Linked DNA regions of Homo sapiens: region 1 is linked to region 2. The links come from fine-mapping of genetic effects on gene expression. A gene starts in region 2. The other region holds a variant in brackets. All regions are shown on one strand. Distances are between the middles of the regions. Region 1 overlaps GTF2IRD1 (GTF2I repeat domain containing 1). Region 2 holds the start of GTF2IRD1 (GTF2I repeat domain containing 1).

Region 1 (5,362 bases), 27 kb after region 2:
CGATCATAGCTCACTGTAGCCTAGAACTCTTGGGCTCAAGCGATCCTCCCACCTCATCCTCCTGAGTAGCTGGGATTACAGGCACATGCCACCACGCCCAACTAATTTTTATGCTTTTAGTAGAGATGGGGTTTCACCATGTTGGCCAGGCTGGTCTCAAACTCCTGGCCTCAACTGAACCACCCACCTCAGCCTCCCAAAGTGCTGGGATTATAGGCATGAGCCACCAGCCCCACCTTTTTTTTTGAGATAGGGTCTTGCTGTATTGTCCAGGCTGGAGTGCAGTAGCGTGATCATGGCTCACTGCAACCTCTGCCTCCTGGGCCCAAGCAACCCTCCCACCCCAGCCTCTGGAGTAGCTGGGACTACAGGCACATGCTATCACACTAGGCTAATTAAAAAAAAAAAAATTATAGAGATGGGGTCTCACTATGTTGCCCAGGCTGGTCTCAAACTCCTGGGATCAGAAACCTGGTGGTCATTCCAGGTGCCTCCCTTGGGACCCCCCGTCGCCAGCTCCTGGTCCCAAAGCTCTGCCCCGTCCTCCATCCCCTGCTGCTGTCTGCTTCATGCCTGGCTGTCTCTGGCCTGGGCTGTCGCAGAGACTTGGCAACTCCTGGCTCCCCAACTCCAAGCATGACCCGACAGTTCCTCCGCCGTAGCTTCCTGGGATCCCCCTCACTGCCCACGTCTCACCCCTGCCCCACACCCTGCAGCGAGGCTGACCTTCCGAGATCCTTGGCCTCACCCCAATGGCCACGCTGGTCTCTGCCCACCACTTCCTGCCCTGCCCTGCACACTCCAGCCATGCAGAGCTGGATTTGTTCCCCACCCACCCACCCACTCCCACAGCCTCTGGCCCCGCTCAGGCCCGACCAGGACACGTGGGCGGCCCAGGCTGGCGGTTGGGTTTCCTGGGCAGCCAGTAATTTGGCACTCCTTCAAACAGGTCTTTATTTATTCAGCATTTATTTCTAGGGGAGGTGGGTGCTGCGGTGGGGCAGGGAAGGCGCCTCCCTTGTAGAAGAGCAGGGCCTGGGCACAGTGCCTGTCTCCCCTCCTCACCTGCAAACGCCAACTCCCCTGGGAGGGTCCCGGCAGCTCAGGTGTCACCTCCTCCAGGAAGCCCCACCCTGACTGCCTCACCCGCCGTCCTGGGCTTCTTCCATGCCACTTATTTTTATCTTTCACTGAAGCATAATTTACTTCCAGTAAAGTACATGAGTACATGAATCTTTTTTTTTTTTTTTTTTTTTTGGAGACAGAGTCCTGCTCTGTCATCTAGGCTGGAGTGGCGTGGTCTTGGCTCATTGCAACGTCCCCATCCTGGGTTCAAACAATTCTCCTGTCTCAGCCTCCTGAGTGGCTTATAGGCGCGTCCACCATGCCCAGCTAATTTTTGTATTTTTAGTAGAGACGGGGTTTTGCCATGTTGGCCAGGCTGGTCTCAAACTCCTGACCTCAAGTGATCTGCCCGCCTCGGCCTCCCTAAGTGCTGGGATTACAGTCGTGAGCCATCGCACCCAGCCCAAGTACATAAATCTTAAGCATCCCGTGTGATGAATTTTCCCCCGACTTGTATACTCATGTAACCATCACTCAGCTCAAATCCTTGCACTGTGTTTTAATCTTTTTTTTTTTTCCCAGTAGTCTATTTTTTTGGTCATTTTCCCTGCCAGCCTGGGAATCCTTCAAGGGCAGGAGCACCTGCTGTTGGGCCCTGTGCGGTGTGGGACACAGTGTGAGAGAGTATTGGTGCCTGTGAGCTGGTGGCTGTGTCCCCACCCCTGTGATTGTCCCCACGTGTGTGTGTGACGGAGGCTGTGGCCGTGGGAACATGTGGATCTGTGAGCCTGGCCAGGGGCCCCAGTGCAGGGGCAAGCGCCCCCTCCTCCACTGGAAGAGAGCCTTGTCCGATCCCCCAGCCAAGGGCCTTTGCAGGGAGCCGTGGCCCTGCTGGAGAGTCCCCGCCGGCTGACAGCCCGGAGATTAGTCTCCAAGGCCACAACGCCAGTTGCCATAGGCACGCAGGCCCGCGTCAGGACTGCGATTTCTCATCCTGGTCACGCAGGCAGGCGGCCGCCCCTGCCCGCCTGCCAGGA[G/T]CCAGGCTCAGGCTTTAAATAACAAGGGTGGAAACCTGAACCGCGGAGCCGTCTGCCCGGCGGATCCTGGCCTCCCCTCCTGGTAGAGCAGGCATGGGGCGGCCTGGACCCCGCATACTGCCGGCGGCGGCGGAGTCCCTCCGTGCCCGCCCCGGGGGACGGGAGAGAAATGGAGAAACCTGAGTTTGGGGGCTCTCTTTGAGTGCTCCTAGTACCTGATGCACAGCCCGAGCTGAGAGGAGACAGCCCCTTTTCCTAAATCCCGTCCTCCACGTGGAGGAAGGACGCCCTACCTTCCAGAAGCCTAGATGAAGGGCAGATGGGGCTTCGCATGGCCAGGCCTCAGATCGGCTTCCCCCAGCCCCTCCAGGGAAGAGGCAGGCGGCTCCCTCACTTCCCCTTGGAAGGCAGCATGAATCCCTGTACTTCCTGGACTGCCCCTTTGCCCCCGCCTGGGGCCAACTTTCCTGTCATGGGGTGGAGCAGCTGTGTTGGATGGTTGGTTTTGCTTTTTGTTTTGCTCTATTTTTTATTTAAAAGGAAAATTTTTTTAGAAATGAGGTCTTGCTCTATCGCCCAGGCTGGAGTGCAGTGGCGCAATCCCAGTTCGATGCATTCTTGAACTCCTGGGCTCAAGCCATCCTCCCACCTCAGCTTTCTGAGTAGCTGTGACGACAGGCGCGTGCCACCACGCCCGGCTCATATTTTAAATTTTTTGTTAGAGATGGGGTCTTGCGATGTTGCCCAGGCTGGTCTCAAACTCTTGGCCTCAGGCAATCCTCCTGCTTCTCTGGCTCCCAGAGTGTTGGGATTACAGGAGTGAGCCACCACGCCCAGCCTGCTTTTGTTTTTAAAGGATGAGGTTTCTGTTGTTTCTTTCCAAATTGTAAAAGTAATACTTACCTTAGGTGACTTAGAAAATACAGAAAAGTAGAGGGAAGCAAAGTCAGGCATGGATCCCACCCTGAGATGCACGGTCTGGAGTTTGCATCCCGGGCTGCACTGTGTATGCCCCTGAGGTCATCCTGTCCAGTGTTGGAATCAGCCTCTGCTGGGCATCAGGTTGCCTGCACCTACTCCTTGTTTATATGTGGGTGTGTGTATCTGTGGATGTACCAAGTGAAAGCTTTGGGGAAACATCTTTGCATGTAAATCTTTGCATTTGGGATAATTAACTCAGGATTAATTTATAGAATTATAAGTCCTGGAGCGAAGGGTGGGAACAGAGTTAAAATTGAACTTCCTGAAACACGTCACAGCGTCACCAAATCGCTTGGCTGGGAGGACTGTGTGCACCCAGGGCCCTTCTGTGGGGTGGGCCAGGATTTAGTGTGAAACTCATGGCTGCTAGGCTGGGAAGAGCTCGACCACAGGTGTGGGGTTTTGTCTCCAGTGACATTCCCAGCTGGCTCTTGCAGCCCCTGCCCTAGTGACAGCATGGGGTGAGGGGGCCAGAGGAGGCTGGAGGTGGAGCCCTGCCTCTAGGCGGAACTGTACCATCTGTAGTTGCAGGGCAGGATTAAAAAGGGACAGTTTTGCTGTTTGTTTGTTTGTTTTTTTCTGTCATCTGACTGGGTGTCCCAATACCTGATGTCTCCTAAAACTTTTTTTTTTTTTTTTTTTTTTTGAGACGGGCCTCCTTCTGTATCCCAGGCTGGAGTGCAGTGATGCAATCTCGGCTCACTGCAGCCTCAACCTCATGGGATCAAGTGATCCTCCTGCCTTAGCCTCCCGAGTAGCTGGGACGACAGGCATGTGCCACCACACATGGCTAAATTTTAAATTTTTTGTAGAGTCAGGGTCTCTCTGTGTTGTCCAGGCTGGTCTCAAATTTCTGGGCTCAAGTGGTCCTCCTGCCTCAGCCTCCCAAAGTGCTGGGATTACGGGTGCGAGCCACTGTTTCTGGCCTTATGCACACTTTTCATTGAGAACAAAGTTATTTGTTGTAAGAGAAACACCTTGATAACTGTTCACACACTAAACTACCCAGGTAACCAGCACCCAGATCAAGAAACAGCATTGACAAGCCCCTCTCACCCCCTTCCAGTTACTACCACTCTCCCTGACCCACCACGATAACCGCCGTTCCATCTCCTGGCTTCAGAATGTGGCCTCCTTTTGAACCTTACATAAATGGAATTCTACCATGTGACCTCAGATTCTTTCATCATCCTTGCGAGATTCCACCGTGGTGTTGCGTGTCTTTGTGGTTTGCTCATACGTCTGATGCCTTTTCCAATAGACGGGGCACCCAGGAGGAGTCAGTGGAAACACATGTACCGTGGAAACAGATCAGGTCTTGCGCTGAAATTCGGATACCTCTGAATTACTGCCCATCGTCAAAGAAATAAAGTTTATTTCCCTAAAGGATGTTTTGTGGTGAATAGGAAAGAATTTGCAATCAGCGTAGCTGTTAAGCCCACAGGAGAGCAAGTTGTATTATGTTGTGAGCCTGGGTTGGGTGTGCAGAGATCTGGGGTTCAGTCTGACGCCTCTGGGCCGTGGTTTCCCTAGATGGACATGCAGGTGGTTAGATGAGGGGCCCATCTAGCTCAGTGCTGTGATGCTAAGCATATACTTCTCAGTGCTAAGAGGTTGTTTTCCAAAGTGTTTGAAGTTTGCTCTTAAGATCTTATTTAGGCCGGTCACAGTGGCTCATTCCTGTAATCCCAGCACTTTGGGAGACTGAGGCAGGATTGCTTGAGCCCAAGAATTTGAGCCCAGCCTGGGCAACATAGCAAGGCCCCATCTCTAAAAAAAAAAAAATTTTTTTTTTAATTAGCTGGGCATGGTGGCATGTGTCTGCAGTTCCAGCTACTTGCGAGGCTGAGGGAAAGAATCGCTTGAGCCCAGGAATTTGAGGCTGCAATGAGCTATGATTGCAGCACTGCACTCCAGGCTGGGTGGCAGAACAAGACTGTCTCTACAAAAAAAATTTTTAAAAATCAGGCATGGCAGCATGCACCTGTAACCCCAGCTACTTGGGAGGCTGAGGCAGGCGGATGGCTGGAGTCCAGGAATTTGAGGCTGCAGTGAGCCATGATCGTGCCACTGCATTCCAGCCTGGGTGACAGAGCGAGACTCCATCTTTACAAAACATTTTTAAAAAAATTAGCAGGGAGCTACTCGGGAGGCTGAGGCCGGCAGATGGCTTGAGTCCAGGAGTTTGAGGGTGCAGTGAGCCATAATCACGCCATTGCATTCCAGCCTAGGTGGCAGAGCAAGACTCTGTCTCTTTAAAAAAAAAAAAATCTTATTTA
Region 2 (5,362 bases):
ATCGCTTGAAACTGGGAGGCGGAGGTTGCAGTGAGCCGAGATCATGCCATTGCACTCCAGCTTGGGTGACAGGGCAAGGCTCCGTCTCAAAAAAAAAAAAAGAAAAGAAAAAGAGAAAGAGGCAGGGTGGGAGACGACCTGGGTCTCAGAGGGCCACACAGGAGGGTGCCTTGAGATGTCCCAGACCTCCTTACAACAGGAGGGTGGTGAAGGATGGAGGGAGCATTGGTGACTTCATTCCCAACCCTGACATGGCCCAACATCCTCTGTGGGCATGAGGGCCCCTCTGCGCCCTGCCTTGTGCTGGGCACTGCAGATGTGGCCTGCCTGGGAGGAGCTCTCAGTCTGATGGGTTTGTGGGTTTCCTATAGGAGACCTGGTCAGCCAAAGTTAACCCTCACCAAGTTCCTGGTGTGTGTCCAGAAGAGACCCCAGTGTAATTGTCTGACGGGTGTTCCTGCCGCTGCACAGGAAGAATTCACTGAGACCATGGTATTACAGCGAGAAATAGTTTTATGTTTCTTAATTTTTAAAATTTTTTAGACAGTCTTACTCTGTCGCCCAGGCTGGAGTGCAGTGGTGCGATCTTGGCTCACTGCAACCTCCGCCTCCCAGGTTCAAGCGATTCTTATGCCTCAGCCTCCTAAGCAGCTGGGATCACAGGTGCCTGCCACCACGCCCGGCTAATTTTTGTGTTTTTAGTAGAGACAGGGTTTCACCATGTTGGCCAGGCTGATCTTGAATGCCTGACCTCAAGTGATCCACCTGCCTCGGCCTCCCAAAGTGTTAGGATTACAGGCATGAGCCACCGTGCCTGGCCTAATTTTTGAAACACAGTCTCACTCTGTCACCCAGGCTGGAGTGCAGTGGCTGAATCTTGGCTCACTGCAGCCTCCACCTCCTGGGTTCCAGTGATTCTCATGCGTCAGCCTTCTGAGTAGCTGGGATTACAGGCATGCACCACCACACCCGGCTAATTTTTGTATTTTTAGTGACCAGGTTTCGCTGTGTTGGCCATGCTGGTCTTGAACTCCTGACCTCAAGCAATCCACCCACCTTCGCCTCCCAAAGTGCTGGGATTACAGGCATGAGCCACTGAGCCCAGCCAAAAGCGTCTTATTAATGCAGAGCTAGCCAAGCAGTAGGACTGGAGTTATTACTCAAATAAATCTCCCCAAGAACTCAGAGGCTAGGGTTTTTATGGATAATTTGGTGGGCAAGGGCCCAGGGAATGGGTACTGCTGATTGGTTGGAGATGAAATCACAGGGGTGTGGCAAACGGTCCTTATGCACTGAGTCGGTCTCTGAGTGGGGGCCACAGGATGGGCTGAGTCATGAGTCACACAGGTCCAGGTGAGTCAGTCGGTTGCCCGAATGCGAAAGTCTGAAAAACATCTCCAAAGACCAATCTCAGTTTCCACAATAGAGATGCTATCTATAGGAGGAAGTGGGGAACTCACAAATCTTGTGATCTCTCGCCACATGACTCCTGAGCAGTCAGATTATAAAAACGATGCGTAGGTTTTAGCAGCGTCCAGGCCCCTCCCATAATCCTAATCTCACGGCCTTTCGTTAGTTTTACAAAGGTGGTTTTGGTCTCTTGTATAAAAAGCAGGTTAGGTTTAAGGAGTAACTATTATCATCCTTGTTTCAAAGTTGAACTATAAACTAAATTCCTCCCCCGGTTAGCTTGGCCTATGCCCCGGAATGAGTGAAGACAGCCAGCGCGTGAGGCTGGAAGCAAGATGGAGTCAGCCACGCTAAACTTCTGTCACTGTCCTAATCTTTGCAAAGGCAGTTTGGCCAGGAGGCTGTGGGGAGACCTTGTGGGTTTTGCCAGGACCTGGGAGATTCTCGATCTATGTTTGGCTGTCCTTCTAAGCCAGAAGCTCCCTGGGGTTGGGGCCTGCCTGGGGTGAGTCCCTCCCTCCCTGCCATGCCCAGTCTAGCCAAGGTCTAGTTCAGGGATCAGGGCACCACGTGGGGGAAGGACTGTGTTCCTTGTGCTGAATTAGGATTTATGGCTTTGGGGCCGGATGGGAGGCGTGCGCACTGATTCAGTAGGAGCGCTGCTGTGGTGTGTGTGTGGTTGGTGGGAGCGGGGCGGGCGGGGGGCGGGGGGGCTGGTTGGGGGGACAGGGGTAAAAGCCTATCAGAGGGAGGTCCCATCAGACAAGATGGGACCAAGAGTCCAGTTGGCTCTGCTGCGACTTTCGGCCTGTCACTGCCTTCCTGCACATCTCAGGGGTGGGAGGGGGACAAAGGCTGTAAGAGTAAGAGGTACCTGGCCCAAGCCTTAGGACTAGAACCCGGGCCAGGCGGGAGTGACCAGCCGGGACACTCAGGGCCTCCGCGCGTTCCAGCTGGGTGACCTTGACCCTCCAACTTCAGCCCCCTGCGCCCGGCTGCTCTCCCAGTGGTGGTGGGGAGCGGTGGGGGTAGACGGGGGCGCGCCCAGGCTTTTCTAATCCGGCGCTGGTGGGGGAGAACCGAGGGCGCCACCGCCCCTCCCCGCAGGTCCGGGGCCGAGGGGTGCGGCGCGCTCTCCCCACCGCGGTGCCCAGGTCCCCGGGACGCAGGGGCGCTGGGTAGCAAGGGGGGTGCGCAGGGGCGCGGGGCGCGGGGCGGGCTAATCCCGTATGTAAATGGCAGCCAATGGAGGGTGGTGTTGCGCGGGGCTGGGATTAGGGCCGGGGCGAATGGCTGGCAATCTTACTGGGATTACAGAACAAAGAGCCTCCCCGCGCTCCCGCTCTCCGCTCCTCTCCCCGCGCCGCCCCGCCCTCCGCCGCAGCCCGCGCCGGGGGTGGGGGCCGCCGAGCGCCAGCCCCCCGGCCGGCCGATTCCCCCCCCGCGCCCCCTCCCCGCGCCTCCCTCCCCGCCCTCGCCGCGCCGCCGTCCTCGCCTCCCTCTGCCTCTCCTTCCCCCATTCTCCCGGATTAATTAAGGAGGCAGCGGCAGGAGGCTGAGTCCTGGCCGCGGGCCGGGGCCGGGGCGCCGCTGGCAGGAGCGCTTGGGGATCCTCCAAGGTAGGAGAAACTTTTGCGGGGGGCGGGCACCGAGGCCCTTCTCCCCTTCTCCCCCACCCCCGCCCCCGATCCCCTCCGCCTCCGGGGGGGGGGGTCCCCGCCCCTCCCCCTCTCAAGGTGTTACAGGAGCTGGGGCCGGCTTTTGGGTGCCCGGGGAGGCACGTGACTGGGATTATAATTCGGGCCCGGGGGGAGGGGAGGGACGGCCGCCCCCCACCTGCCCGGGAGGGGCCGGGAGCTGGGAGCTGTCACCCCCTCCCTCCTTGCCACCGGCTCTTCTGGAGGTGGGGGGCGTCCCGGGCCGGCGCCCGCAGGCTGCTGCAGTTGGCGAATGAGGTCAGTCGCGCTGCCCGCGGTGGCGGGCGCCGGGGTGGGAGCAGAGGGGGCTGGGAAGGCCGCGGTCCCCGCCTTTCCCCCCTCCACCTTCTCCCGGTCTGGGCCAGCCCCTGGCCCGCGCCCCCAACTCCCAGGCGGAGTCCAGTCCAGCCAGGATTGCCCCAGCAGGGTGGTTCCTGTAGTGGACCCCCCGCCCCGGCCCCGGGGAGGGGGCTGGCCTGTGTGGTGGTGGCCGCTGAATCCCGGGTGGAGGGGACTCAGAAGGTGGCAGTGGGGGGACCACAAAGGGTTCAGAGGAGTAAGTTGGGGATACTCGGTCTGTGGGTGGTCTCTGAGTTCCTGCAGATGGGTGGAGAGGACAGAGGAGGGGCCACAGGGTGCTGAACACCCACCCGCCCCATCCTAAGTACCCTGGGCATGATGGGCTTGACACCTCTCCTGGGCTCCTCACCCCTGGCCAGCAGCCAGGGAGTGAGACCCTGCCTCGCCTGGCGTGGGCCCAGGGAAGGGGGCCGCTGTGCCGCTGAGAGTTCGTTCCACCCTCCTGGCAGTGCTGGAGGGGGCTGGAGCTCTGGCGTCTGGCCTAGTGACCCTACCTCCCAGGACCAAGGTCCTGCGGTGGGAGTCTCCTGTGTCCCCATCCCAGCTGAAGCGAGGGTGCTGGGACATAGGGGTCTCGCTGCAGGGCCTGTGAGGGGAGCACTGACTCTTGGATGGAGAATGTGCCAAGGGGTACCCCGGGATGGCCCTGGGCCTGGCGGGTGGGAGTGGAGGGCAGGCCCCCGCAGTTTTTGGAGAAGTGGGCATTTGCTGGGGTTTCTCTTAGAAGAGGAGAGGGGTGTCTAGAAGCCACCCTGGCGCGCCGCTGCCATGGTCGGCCTCTGTGTGTCTGGCTGCCCCGTGGCCAGGACTGTTGACTCCTTGGCACTGGCCCGGGGCCTTGGGACTTGGAAGGTGCCCCAAGCAGCTCATTTATTTCAGCAGTGTCATTCCAGAGGGGAAGGGCACCAGCATCGATTATTTATTCTAAGCAGGAGGAGGTGGCTGGAGGCTGGTGGCTGCTGGCAGGGAGGGGCTAGGTATAAGGTAGTTAGGTGGCCGTCATGAACCGCCCTATTTGGGGCCCAGGAGGGTGTGAGATAGACTCTGACCTCTTCTGAGCAGGCATCTGCGGACCAAGGGACAGGCTTGGCCCCAAGGTGACAGGGTATCGGAACCCCCATCCTGCCTCTGGGGTGTGGGAGGCTCAAGTCCACACCTCGTTCTTCCACAGCCTGTTCTGAGGGTGACCTAGAAATTGGCAGTTCTAACTCAGAGGGTCCCACAGGACCCCACAGAGGAAACTAGGAAGGAAGGGTTGAAACTCCGCAGCCACTCAGAGCCTGCACTCTTAAAATGTTCGAGAACTTAAGGCCGATGGTTGTAAAACTGGGTCTTGAAGACAGCTTTGTAGGGGGCACGCTAAACCTACTTAAAAGGACTGTTCTCTCGATGTTGGGAGAAGGGTCATTTATTTGCAGTATGCTAATCACAAATAATTTTTATCTGTTCATTGAAGGCAGCCTCCCAGGAGCCCGGCTAGCCTTCTGATGAGGTGGTAGTCGTCAGCACTTGGTGTTTGGCAATAGTCTGAGTGGCAGCTGTAATCTAGGGTCTTGGAGGTAGCTGTTTTTGCAGCCTGCTTGACTCCAGAGGCCAGGCCATCCACGGTTTGGTGACAGCTTGGTTGTTGGACCTGGGGTCTTGTGGATGGTGGGTGATGGCTTGGGACATTCACGTCCTAAGCATGACCTTGGAACCATAGACTGCAGCTCCCAGATGATTCTCATTCAGGGTCTAGTCTCTGACCACTCACTGCTTCCTCAGCCGACTCATAAATCCTGTAGTCTGGCCGGGCGCAGTGGCTCACGCCTGTAATCCCAGCACTTTGGGAGGCCGAGGTGGGTGGATCACGAGGTCAGGAGTTCAAGACCAGCCTGGCCAACATGGTGAAACCC

What was found. PIP is the estimated chance that this variant, and not a neighbour inherited with it, causes the effect.
Region 1: its variant is fine-mapped to the expression of GTF2IRD1 in tibial artery (GTEx, PIP 0.99).

What each region holds. Positions count from the first base shown.
Region 1 is chr7:74,478,518-74,483,879 of GRCh38, forward strand. All of the region lies in intron 1 of GTF2IRD1 (GTF2I repeat domain containing 1), which reads left to right. Among named protein-coding and RNA genes, the nearest start is that of GTF2IRD1, 27 kb to the left of the region's middle. RefSeq lists enhancers at 1-561, 1,822-1,871, 1,922-1,971, 1,982-2,031. The variant G/T (reference allele first, on the strand shown) is at 2,103.
Region 2 is chr7:74,451,148-74,456,509 of GRCh38, forward strand. It overlaps GTF2IRD1 (GTF2I repeat domain containing 1), which reads left to right and starts at 2,759. Exons shown (of 27, transcript NM_005685.4): 1 at 2,759-3,029. RefSeq lists an enhancer at 1,055-1,574 and silencers at 2,460-2,809, 3,312-3,381.